Linked DNA regions of Homo sapiens: region 2 is linked to region 1. A link means that fine-mapping ties the variant in region 1 to the expression of a gene that starts in the linked region. Tissue or cell type: whole blood. Region 1 holds a variant in brackets; the other region holds the start of a gene. All regions are shown on one strand. Distances are between the middles of the regions.

Region 1 (7,590 bases):
CATTATTTACTATGACTGGTTTATTATAAAGGATACGACTCAGGGACAGCTAAATGGAAGAGATGTATAGGACTAGATATGGAAGGGGCACCCTCCCAGCATGTTGATGTGTTTACCAACCCAGAAACCCTCCAAACCCTTCATTCAGGGGTTTTTATGGACTTTCCATCATGTAGGCATGATTGATGAAGCCATTGGCTGGAGATGGATGATTACCTCAATCTCCAGACCCTCTCCCCTCCCCAGAGGCCCAGGGTGGGGCTGGCAAACAGCCCTTATTTGAAGCTATCTAGGGGCCCTCCAAGAGTCACCTCATTAGCATAAACTCAGGGATGATCATAAACTCAGGGATGATTGAAAGAGGCATGTTATGAACAACAAGATGATCCTCTCACCTCGCCATTCAGGAAATTGTAAGAGTTTTAAGAGCTCTGTGCCAGGAACCAGGAACAAAGACCAAATATATACTTACTCTTATATCACAATATCACACATAAAGTTATAATAATAATTGTATTAATGTCCTTCACTGCTAATTCTAACATCCTTGTTGGTTCTGAGTCTGTTTTGATTGATTATTCTCCTCATTATGGGTCCTTTTTCCCTTCAAAGGCATTCCTGGTAATCTTTGGTTGGATCTCAGACATTGTGCATTTTACCTTATGGTTGCTGGATATTTTGTATTCCTATAAGTATCCTGGAGCTTTTGTTCTGGGATGCATTTCATTGTTTCTTTCTTTCTTTCTTTCTTGGCTGTTGTGAATAGTGCTGCAGCAAGCATGGGAGTGCAGATATCTCTTCAACATGATTTCATATCCTTCGGATATATACCCAGTAGTGGGTTTGCTGGATCATATGGTGGTTCTATTGTTAACTTTTTGAGGAACCTCCATACACTTTTCCATAATGGCTATACTAATTTACATTCCCACCAACAGCCTGCAAGTGTTCCCTTCATGCCATATCCTCACCAACACTTGTTATCTTTTGCCTTTCTGATAATAGTCATTCTACCAGGTGTGAGGTGGTATCTCATTGTGGTTTTGATTTGTATTTCACTGATGATTAGTGATGTTGAGCATTTTTCTCATATACCTGTTGACCATTCATATGTCTTCTTTTGAGAAATGTCTATTCAGTTTCTTTGCCCTTCTTTTTTTCTTTTCTTTTTTTTTGAGACGGAGTCTCACTCTGTCGCCCAGGCTGGAGTGTAGTGGCACAATCTCGGCTCACTGCAACCTCTGTCCCCTGGGTTCAAGTGATCCTCCTGCCTCAGCCTCCCTGGTAGCTGGGACTACAGGGGCACTCCAACATGCGCAGCTTTTGTATTTTTAGTAGAGATGGGGTTTCACCCTGTTGGCCAGGCTGGTCTCGAACTCCTGATCTCAAGTGATCCACCTGCCTCGGCCTTTCAAAGTGCTGGGATTATAGGCGTGAGCCACCGTGCCCGGCCAACTTTATTCTTTTTGCTCAAGATCTCTTGGCTTTTAGGAGCCTCTCTCTCTCTCTCTCTTTTTTATTTTCCTTTTTCCTTAGATCCAGGGACAGACTGGATGTTCTGGGTCTTTTGTGATTCCATATAAATTTTAGGATTGTTTTTTCTATTTCTGTGAAGAATGTCATTGTTTTCTGGGTTTTTTTTTTTTTTTTTTTTTTTTTGACACAGCGTCTCACTCTGTCACCCAGGTTGGAGTGCAGTGGTGTGATCTGGGCTCACTGCAACCTCTGTCTCCCAGGTTGAAGCAATTCTTATGCCTCAGCCTCCCGAGTAGCTGGGATTACAGGCGCCTGCCACTATGCCCGGCTAATTTTTGTATTTTTAGTAGAGACGGGGTTTCACCAGGTTGGCCAAGCTGGTTACGAACTCCTGACCTCAAGTGATCCACCCGACTCGGCCTCCCAAAGTGCTAGGATCACAGACGTGAGCCACTGCGCCCGGCTGGTATTTTTTGTTTTTTGAGACAGAGTCTCACTCTGTTGCCCAGGCTGGGGTGCAGTGGCATGATCATGGCTTACTGCAGCCTTGATCTCCTGGGCTGAAGGGTTCTTCCCACCACAGCCTCCCAAGTATCTGGGACCACAGGTGTGCACCACCACACCTGGCTATTTTTTAAAAATATTTTTTGTAGAAACAAAGTCTTACTGTATTGCCCCGGCCAGTCTCAAACTCCTGAGCTGAAGAGATCATCCCACCTCAGCCTCCCAAAGTGCTGGGATTACAGGTGTGAGCCACCACGCCCAGTCAAATTCTTTCTTCTGAGGAGGCAAGAATTGAGGTTGCTGTAGACCTGGACAGATTTGCCACTGCTAACAGGCTCACATCATTTGTTTCCACTGTCCTCCATTTTCTGATGTTATTGTTTTGAAAGCTGTCATTGCATGTATTTTGTGTAAATCTATTGTTTGAAGCAGGTAGTAAGTCTTGTCCCTGTTACTCCATCTTGACCAGAAGCAGAAGTGCTTTCCCACAACTTTTACAAATGTACTTTGCTCTTCTTCTTTTTCATTTCTTGAGATAGAGGCTTACTTAGCTCAGTACTTATTCAAACTTTTTGCCTTGATATGTTTCTAATCATAGATACTAAAAGACAGCAAAAACTCCATATACATATATTTATTACTTTTAACACTGTTGGATTTTTATAATTCTTTATATCCAAAAAATGTAATCCATTTTGTGAAATGCTTACAGTCTTTTTTGTGTGTGCCATCACAGCTCTCATCATTAAAAATGTTTCCTTAGCAACCGGACAAAAATTGATATCAACATGGGTACCTATATGATTTTAAAGTTTTTCTTACTGCACCTTTTAAAAGTTGCACATTCTGGCCGGGCGCGGTGGCTCACGCCTGTAATCCGAGCACTTTGGGAGGCTGAGGTGGGCGGATCGGTTAAGGTCAGGAGTTTGAGACCAGCCTGGCCAGCATGGTGAAACCCCATCTCTACTGAAAATACAAAAATTAGCTGGGCGTGGTGGCGTGCTCCCGTAATCCCAGCTATTCAGGAGGCTGAGGCAGGAGAATCGCTTCAACCTGGGTGGCAGAAGTTGCTGTGAGCTGAGATTGCACCACTGCACTTCATCCAGCCTGGGCAACAAAGTGAGACTCCATCTCAAAAAAATAAAAAAATAAAAGGCTGGGCGCAGTGGCTCACACCTGTAATCCTAGCACTTTGGGAGCCTGAGGCGGGCAGATCACGAGGTCAGGAGTTCGAGACCAGCCTGGTCAATATGGTGAAACCCCGTCTCTACTAAAACTACAAAAATTAGCTGGGCATAGTGGCAGGCGCCTGTAATCCCAGCTACTCGGGAGGCTGAGGCATAAGAATTGCTTCAACCTGGGAGGCAGAGGTTGCAGTGAGCCCAGATCACACCACTGCACTCCAGCCTGGGCGATATAGCAAGACTCCATTAAAAAAAAAAAAAGTTGCACATTCTTTCAGTGTAATAAGGAGATAGGACAGAGAGAAATACAGAAATTAAAAAGAGAAGAAGGCAGATGAAAACAAGGAGAAGGAGGAATAGAAAAGTAGGGAAAATGAGTAGCACATGGACGACCTTTACAGAAATGGCGTGTAATCCCTCACCATTTCTGAATCTTTAGTTAAAGTTTCCATAGAATGCAATGCATAGCTGATCATGGTCCACATGCATTTGCCACCCACCCCACTGATCTGATCACTACCTGTGTTAGCTACTCTATAAAATGGTAAAAACAATATGTAACAACACCATAGAAGAAAACTTAAGTATGAATATAGCTTTTTGGTATTGTTAAAAATGAACAGTGTCTGAAACCAGGGTTCCAAGGGACCACCCAGTTTTTTCCCATTGTCATAGACAATCTATGTCCTAACTTCTGAGCAGCTCTAGAATCTTGTTTCTTTTCATCCTAGAACCCAACAACATTTTGGTGTTGGTTTGCTATAGCACTACCCTGGCTGAGGGTATTTTCTGCTTCTTTCTTTCCCAGGCAGTAGGCTTCTCTGTGCCTAGCTGGTAATGGGGCAGAGGTGGAGAGGACTCTTCTCTTTCCAAAAGGAAATTGTTCTGAAGGCAGCAGATTTTGTGTCCTCTTGGTAACACTACTGCCTCTTCCCAAACTCCTGTCCTTGTCTCCAGCTTTAAACTCATCTCTTTTCTTTTCTTTTTTCTTTTCTTTTCTTTCTTCTTCCTCTTTCTTTCTTTCTTTGTTTTTCGCTCTCTCTCTTTCCTTCCTTCCTTCCTTCTTTTCTTTTCTTTTTTTTTTATGAG[A/G]CAGTGTCTCGCTCTGTTGTCCAGATTGGAGTTCAGTGGCACGATCACAGCTCACTGCAACCTCTGCCTCCCAGGATCAGGTGATCCTCACATCTCAGCCTCCCAAGTAGCTGGGACTACGAGCGTGTGGCACCATGCCAGGCTAATTTTTATATTTTTTGTAGAGACAGGGTCTCGCCATGTTGCCCAGGCTGGTCTGGAATTCCTGGGCTCAAGCTATCCTCCCACCTTGGTCTCCCAAAATGCTGAGATTACAAGCATAAGCTACAAAAATACTTTAATAATTATTAAAAACTGTGGACTGCTGGCTGGGCACGGTGGCTAACACCTGTAATCCCAGCACTTTGGGAGGCCGAGGGGGGCAGATCATGAGGTCAGGAGTTCTAGACCAGTCTGGCCAACATGGTGAAACCCCGTCTCTACTAAAAATACAAAAATTAGCTGGGCATGGTGGAGCATGCCTATAATCCCAGCTACTCTGGAAGCTGAGGTAGGAGAATTGCCTGAACCCAGGAGGCAGAGGTTGCAGTGAACTGAGATCACGCCACTGCACTCCAGCCTGGGCAACAGAGCGAGACTCCGTCTCAAAACAACAACAACAACAAAAACTGTGCACTGCTCCAATGACATAAAAGCAATAATGTATAGGGGACTTCAGAAATTACAAAGGGCGGCCAGACACAGTGACTCATGCCTATAATCCCAGCACTTTGGGAGGCTGAGGTGGGCAGATCATCTGAGGCCTGTGTCTACTAAAAATACAAAAATTAGCTGGGCGTGGTGGTAGACGCCTGTAATCCTAGCTATTCGGGAGGCTGAGGCAGGAGAATTGCTTGAACCCGAGAGGTGGAGGCCGCAATGAGCTGAGATTGCACCACTGCACTCCAGCCTGGACAACAAGAGTGAAACTCCGTCTCAAAAAAAAAAAAAAAAAAAAAAAAGAAAAGAAAAGAAAAAGAAATTGCAAAGGGCTTTCAGGTAGATTCTCGTTTGTCCTCTGTGATAATGCTCTGGGATGTGGAGCAGCCGCTTGGGAGGTTGGGCATCTCGCCCAAGGTCATGTAGCACGTAAGGGGTATCTTTAGCTAGGTCTTCTCTCCAGAGCCACACCCTTTCTACTGTGTTGCTTCTAACATGTACCTAAAAGCAATTTTATTTGCTTACAGTAAAAGAAACTACTTTTCAGTCCTCCTAACGAATATGATTATATGTAAGCTTAAAAAAAAAAGGAAATGTGAGCCAGACATGATGGCTCATGCCTGTAATCCCAGCACTTTGGGAGGGGCAGGTGGATCCCTTGAGCCCAGGAGTTGGAGACCAGCCTGGGCACATAGTGAGACCTCATCTTTACAAAAAAAAAAAAATTACCAGGTGTGGTGGGGTGCATCTATAGTCCCAGCTATTTGGGAGGCTGAGCCAGGAGGATTGCTTGAGCCCAGGAGGTTCTAAGCTGCCATAAGCCGAGATGGTGCCACTGCACGCTATCCTGGGTGATAAAGTGAGACCCCTGTCTCAAAAAATAAAAATAAATAATTTTTTTTTTTTTGAGGCAGGTTCTCGCTCTGTCACCCAGGCTGGAGTGCAGTGGTGCGATCTCGGCTCACTGCAAGCTCCGCCTCCCGGGTTCATGCCATTCTCCTGCCTCAGCCTCCCAAGTAGCTGGGACTACAGGCACCCACCACCACGCCCAGCTAATTTTTTGTATTTTAGTAGAGTCGGTGTTTCACTGTGTTAGCCAGGATGGTCTCAATCTCTTGACCTCGGGATCCGCCCGCCTCAGCCTCCCAAAGTGCTGGGATTACAGGTGTAAGCCACTGCACCCGGCCAATAAAAAAATTTTAAGAGGCCGGGCGTGGTGGCTCATGCCTGTAATCCCAACACTTTGGGATGCCAAGGCGGGCAGATCACGAGGTCAGGAGTTCGAGACCAGCCTGGTCAATATAGTGAAACCCTGTTTCTACTAAAAATACAAAAATTAGCCAGGAGTGGTGGTGGATGCCTGTAGTCCCAGCTACTCAGGAGGCTGAGGCAGGAGAATCGCTTGAACCCGGGAGGCGGAGGTTGCAGTGAGCCGAGATTGGGCCACTGCACTCCAGCCTGGGAGACAGAGCGAGACTGTCTCAAAAAAAAAAAAATGTAAGAAAAGAAATGTATTCCTATTATTCAAAGGGGTGAGCCATGTGAATAGGGTCAACTCTTTAGAAATCAGTTAGTTATTCTAGATCAGCAGTCCCCAACTTTTTTTGGCACAAGGGACCGGTTTCATGGAAGATGATTTTTCCATAGACCAGGGGTTGGAGGGGGATGGTTTCAGGATGATTCAAGCCATTACATTATTGTGCACTTTATTTCCATTATTATTATTACATTGTCATACACAATGAAATAATTATACAACTCACTATAATGTAGAATCAGTGGGAGCCCTGAGCCTATTTTCCTGCAACTAGGCAGTCCCATCTGGGGCTGATGGGAGACAGTGACAGATCATCAGGTATTAGATTCTCATAAGGAGAACCTGCATAGTTAACAATAGGGTCTGAATTCCTATGATAATCTACCGCCGCCACTGCTCTGATGGGAGGCGAAGCTCAGGCGGTAATGCTGGCTCACCCACTGCTCACCTCCTGCTGTGTGGCTGGTTCCTAACAGGCCATGGACTGGTATGGACCCACGGACCAGGGATGGGGACCCCTGCTCTAGATCATCTTATTCTTTAGCTTTACTTCTTTCTACCCTGCCATGGTGGGATTAATGACATCTTAGCTTGTGAAGGGCATTCCATCACAGGATGGGCAAGGCAGCAGATGTTGCGAATTTGCTGGGATTGCTACTTTATTTGTGGCTCTGGCATGAGGTTTGAAAGCAACCAGTAACTGACTTTCTCTAGGATTTTTGTTTTCAAATTTCAGCTATTTGCAGTATCTCTTTGTCTTAATCCGGAATCCAAAAACTGGAGGTTTGTTATTCTGTTGCTGGAACAAAGAGAGAACATCACCTGCTTTGACTGGTACAATGTATTTCATCTATGTCTCCATTCCTACCTCCCATAACCACCAAGGTCACAGGACTGCCTCCCCATTTTTACAGGACATAGAAACACCAAAAGCCTCAGATTGTGCTGTTGTGGAAATAGCCAGAGTTCAGGTGAACGCTGACAAGAAAAGAAGCTAAAAAAGATTATTTTTTGTATTTGGAGAATGAAGAGAGTTTGTAACAATCATATTCCAAAGCTTACATCTCTTCTGATGTTAAAACAGCAGAAAGCTGCAACAGAGGCTGGGCGCAGTGGATCACACCTGTAACCCAGCACTTTGGGAGGCTGCAGCAGGCGGAT
Region 2 (5,128 bases), 110 kb before region 1:
AAGGTTGCAGCAGCCCTTTTAAAGCTTTTGACACCCCCATCCCATATCCCCTTCACAACACAATCAACACTAGCGAGTCAGACTTTCAGCCCCTTTAATTAGGTGCTCTGAGAAGAGGTCAGAATGGCAGGCAGGGGGTGGGGAAGGCGGTGCTTCTTGAGCCCCACTTAGCAACTGGTCACTCATCCTCTGGCAGCTGGATCTTGCTGGGGTCGAAGCAGTTGGATTCCATGATGGGAAGGCCATTGGCCTCTCGGTATTTCACAAGCCTCTCAGCTTCGCGGCGGGACCACTCTTTCATCCTGGTAGTGCAAATAGCAGGGGTAGACGTGAGGGAGCCTCAACTGATACCAATCCCTCATCTCAGCTCCCCATTCCCAATGGTGCAGGAACAAAACTCCTGGCAGAATCCCCTTCAACCTCCATCCCTGCCTCTGCCTCTTACCCATCCCACGCTCTTGGACACCCTGTGCACCTGTAGTCAGGCAGATAGGCCACAAAGGTGCTGCCAAGGACCAGGATGATGGAGACGCCAAAGAAGAAGACAAGTCGCATGTTCCAGACGTCCAAAACGGGGTCCTTGTCATAACCATGGGAGTCTGGGTTCTGTGGAGAAATAGAGGTCAATGAGGGCTTCCTGCTGCTCCACAAAGCCTTATTCTGGCCCTGCATAACTTGGTCTCCATGTGCCCCTCTCACTAAATTCCTCTGTTTCCATTCTTGGGATATGTCAAGCTCCTTCCCACTGCAGGGCCACTGCACTTGCTGCTCTCTCTGCCTGGAAAGCCTTTCTTCCAGCTCTAGTCATGGCTGGATCTGTCTCCTCATTCAAGGTTTTAGATTCATCACCACTTCCTTCAGGAGGCACTCCCTAGTTACCTTGTCTTTCAAAGTTGAAGCATAGGAAACTGCTATTTTTATAGGTCACAAATGGTTGAATACTGGCAATTTCTTATAGCTCAAGCTAATGAAATAGCCCCCTACACCCAAGTCATTCTCTATCCACTTATCTTGCTTAACTTTGTCTTCACATCCTCTCTTCCTTCTGTCTCTTTCTAGTCTATGTTTACCTAAGTAGCATACTTTCCCCATTCTCTGTATATCATACATTCTCATGTTATATTATCTATTATACTACTTTGTATTATTGTTTTCTAATATTTTACTGTTTATTTTCTGTCTTCCCCACTATCATGTAAGCTCTATGAGAGCATGGGCTTTGTCTGATTTCCACACTGCTGTATCCCCAGGGCCCTGAACTGAGCCTGGCATACAGCAGGCCCTCAATACATATTTACAGAATGAACAAGCATCCTATATATCCAAGCCCCTTAACCAGAGGTTAGTATTGATGAAGTACTTATTATGTGCCAGTCTTTTCACATAGAAACACCTCACAATATCTCAGTGAGGTGAAACATGGCAATAATAAACACATTCTAGTGCTGAGTACATACTTACGAAGTGCCAGCTGCTGTTCTGACCATTTTTACTCATTTAATTACATGAGGCAGGTGGGGTGTCCTATTTTTTAGAAGGTGTCCTATTACTGTTCCCATCTTACAGACAAAGAAACTGAGGCACCAAGGGTTTATGCTACCAAGATCACACGGGTGGGTAACCGTCAGTGCTGCCTGATTTCACAGCGTCTGCTATTAATACAGCACAGCAGACCTGGTAGCCCTAAATTCAAATACCAGTTCCACCTCCACCATGTATTCAGTTATGTGAGCTAGGGCAATCCACTTAACATCTCTGTGCCTCAGTTTCCTCATCTGTAGGATGAGTATAATAATAGAGCCCACCTCGAAATGGGGTTTGTTTCGAGTATAAGATGAGCTAATGCATGTCAAGTGTTTAGAACACAGACGGGGCCCGGAGCGGTGGCTCATGCCTGTAATCCCAGCACCTTGGGAGGCCGAGGCGAGAGGATCGCTTGAGCCAGGAGTTCGAGACCAGCCTGGGCAACATAGCGAGATCTCGTCCCTATAAAAAAAAAAAAAAGAATGCAGACGGCAACGAGCAAGTGCCATATCGGTGTTTAGTATTATCGTTGTACTATACTGCTTCTAACGTGTTTTGAGCGCTGTCCACTTGAGGTGTGATTTCTGTCTGCAAAATAAAACCAATCCTGCCTCTGGCCCTGGAACGAAGATACCGAGAGACAAAGGAGGAACACAAGGTAGGCAAAATTCCCAAGTCTTCTAGGCTTTCGCCGGCCGCGCAGTCCTCTACTGCCTAAGAACGTCCTCTACAGCGCCCCATCTGCCGATCCCGGACTGACCCCTTCGGGGTTCCGTCCCCACTACCCCCCCCCCCCCCCCCGCCTCTCACCTTCTCATACAAGTTTTCGTCCTCGGGTTCTGGGTCCTCTTGCCACGGTGTGGTCGGTTCTGGGGGCCGCTTTCCCGCCACAGCGGACGGGGCGACCACAGTCCTGGAGAAGCTAGATTCCCAGCGGACGCGGGCGGCCGGGAGCCCTCGCGTCGCCGCTGCCGCCAAAAGACGGCGAGCGCTCAAACCAAACAGCCCAGCCGCCATGACAGATGGTGCTGCAGGGTCTCAGGGGCGGGGAAAGAAATGCGACTGTGCGCAGCTGCAGTGGGTGCGAGCGCGACAATCATCGCCCCGCCTCCGCCACGCTATATAGGTCCCAGATCTGATTTGGTTTTCCAATGAGGCGGGGCGTTGAGCAACCCTCTTTGCCTCCAGTTGTCGTGGCTTCGTGGGGCCAACCATTTTCGGCCAGGCTGAGAAATTTCTTATTGATGGGTCTGCTCATTTCCTGCATAGGAAGAAATCGGTGACATTTGGGTGGATACAGTTCCCAGCCAATCGCCCCGAGTTCCCTCGCCCACTGGGGAAAGAGGCAGAGCTTCCGCTAGTCTTTCATCTTCAAAGGAAATCAAGCTTCTAAAAAGCGGGCCCTGCCGAATTGGCTAATAGCTACTCCTTTTCTCCACTAGGGGAGCGTTCGCAAGGGGTGTGGGGAGGTGGCCAGCGCTTGCCAATCAGAGGAGGCCAGGGCTGTCCCCTAGCGGGCGGTGACCAATCGCCGGGGCCGGCCAGAGCGCGCTTCCTTAGTAGGTGGATGGTGGTCGGAGCGCCGACTCCCTTCTCGTCGTCGCCATTTTGAGCTGGTGACTGTGGCCGGCTGGGAGTAGGCGGCAGTGAGTTTCCCTGGGAGGGCAGCGCGCTTGGCGCTTCTCCCCTCCCCCCGATCTGCCTCCAGTCTCGGACTTGGTTGTTGCGCGCTCCGGCTCCGGCTGAGCTGGGAGAGTTGGAGGAGGTGGCGGCGGGCAGAGGTGATGTCTGGGAGCCCTTCCTTGACAGCCCGGGCCGAGAAGGTGAGCGTCGACGCTGGTCGTGGGGGCGGAGGTAAGGGGCCCGGGGCGGGGACGTAGAGGAGGCGCGAGGGCGGACTTCGGGTCGGGGGAGATGCGCGGAACGGAGGGGTTGGTGCAATGTCTCAACCCGGGAGGGTTTTTTTTTTTTTGGTTTTTTTTTTTTTTTTTTTTTTTTTTGGTGTGAGCAAAGGCGCGTGCGCGACTGGGACATGGGATGGGTGCATGCGGGTTGGGGGAAGGGAGGGACGGATGGGAGTGGGCTACTGTGGATCACTGTGTCGGCTACATCGAAGTTTATCAGTGGGGAAGCGGTTGTCTGCGACTTTGAGTTTGTGCATAGGAGAGGGGATGCTGCTCTGTGTTACTCTGGTGTTTATCGGTCCATGGGGAAATATTCTGTGGTTCTGGTCTCTATTCCTGGGGGATCGGAGGGGGGATGTGACTCTGGTCTTTACCCTTTGAGGGGGGGCGGTCTGTGACTCTGATCCTTATCCATGGGGCGGGGCTTGGGGGACGACTGTCTTTTGATTGACCCTAACCCACTTATTGGGTGGGAAGGGGCATGCAGGGAATGTGTGTGTGACTCATTGCCCCTTCTTTTGGGGAGTTTGTATCTGTGACACTGACGCTCATCCATGGAAAGGGGACCCACTGTGTAATTGTGGTCCTTACTGTGTGTTCCTTCTGTGATGTGGGCCCGTAGTTATTTGGGGCTCGTGTCTGTGACTGGCCCTTGGCTGTGGTGGATGTTACTGTGTGACTCTGGCCCCTTTGCCAGAGTCTCTTGAAGGTTTTTGTGCTCTCAGACGCCAGTGCCTCTGTGTGATTCTAACTCTTGCCCACCTGGGAGCAGGTAACTCGGGTTCCCTGTGGCTTGAGGAGGAAGAGAAAATTGGAGTGTGTTTGTCTGTGTATGTGTGTGCACGAGCATAGAGCAAAGGTGTGGCAGCAACCTAGTGTTGAGCAGGTGCTATTATTGCCTGGCTTTACCTGCTTCTTATTCAGAGGGTGGGGCCTGAAGATCTGGGATTCATCCTGACCTCTGGCTGGGTCACAGGGTTCTCAGGACTCCCTGAGTTCTCACCACAGCCCTGAGGGTTGGATGAAGTGGCTGCTGCTCCATCCCAATAGAAGAGCACAGTGGTTCAGAACAGCCTCCAAAAGGGCCCCTTTTGCCTCTGGAAACCGGGCTTGAGCCCTGGGGAGGGAACCACCTTAGGACCGGGCTGCACATAAGAGACAGGGCTCAGGGCTGAGCCAGTTGCTGTGTGAGGGCCAAGGCTGTGTTGGCCAGGAGCCCAGGGAGGTGGCAGCTGTCTCGTCGCCAAGTTCGCCCCTTCACACACCCCCCCAAGAGCCTTTCATGGTCTTTTGCTGCCTTATAGGGGACAGCCAGCAGCTTGTTGGGAGGATGAGATGGTCCCTTGGGGCCTGTGGAAGGAGCCTGGGGCCCCCATTGTTGTGAAGTCTTGTCTGATGTGCTGAATCTCAGGCAAGACTTTCAGCCCTGAGAGTCCCCTACCCCCACCCTGGGATGCAGCCCCAGGCTTGAATTTGTCTACCTGTCTTAGGTGGCAAAGCCCTGATCACACTGTGGGTGGCCCCGCCAGGTCTCTCTGCAAGATGCCCCCTGTCTGCTGAAGTCCTTGCTGTTTTCTAGGGCAGTGGGCTCTAGCCTTATGTTTGCGGGGAAAGGGAGGAGCAGGCCAAGTAGGGGCTACCTTCATACTGTGATGCACAGGAGTGCTGGGAGCTGGAAGACAATGTCCCTGGGCTAAGGG

The links. PIP is the estimated chance that this variant, and not a neighbour inherited with it, causes the effect.
Region 2: it holds the start of NDUFB11, and the variant in region 1 is fine-mapped to the expression of NDUFB11 in whole blood (TOPMed, PIP 0.97).

Annotation. Positions count from the first base shown.
Region 1 is chrX:47,254,947-47,262,536 of GRCh38, forward strand. No RefSeq gene overlaps it. Among named protein-coding and RNA genes, the nearest start is that of USP11, 26 kb to the left of the region's middle. The variant A/G (reference allele first, on the strand shown) is at 4,254.
Region 2 is chrX:47,142,139-47,147,266 of GRCh38, forward strand. NDUFB11 (NADH:ubiquinone oxidoreductase subunit B11) reads right to left here and starts at 2,564. Exons shown (of 3, transcript NM_001135998.3): 1 at 2,335-2,564; 2 at 476-606; 3 at 78-302. The coding sequence starts at 2,541. The coding sequence ends at 179. RBM10 (RNA binding motif protein 10) reads left to right here and starts at 3,083. Exons shown (of 24, transcript NM_005676.5): 1 at 3,083-3,347. RefSeq lists an enhancer at 3,107-3,376.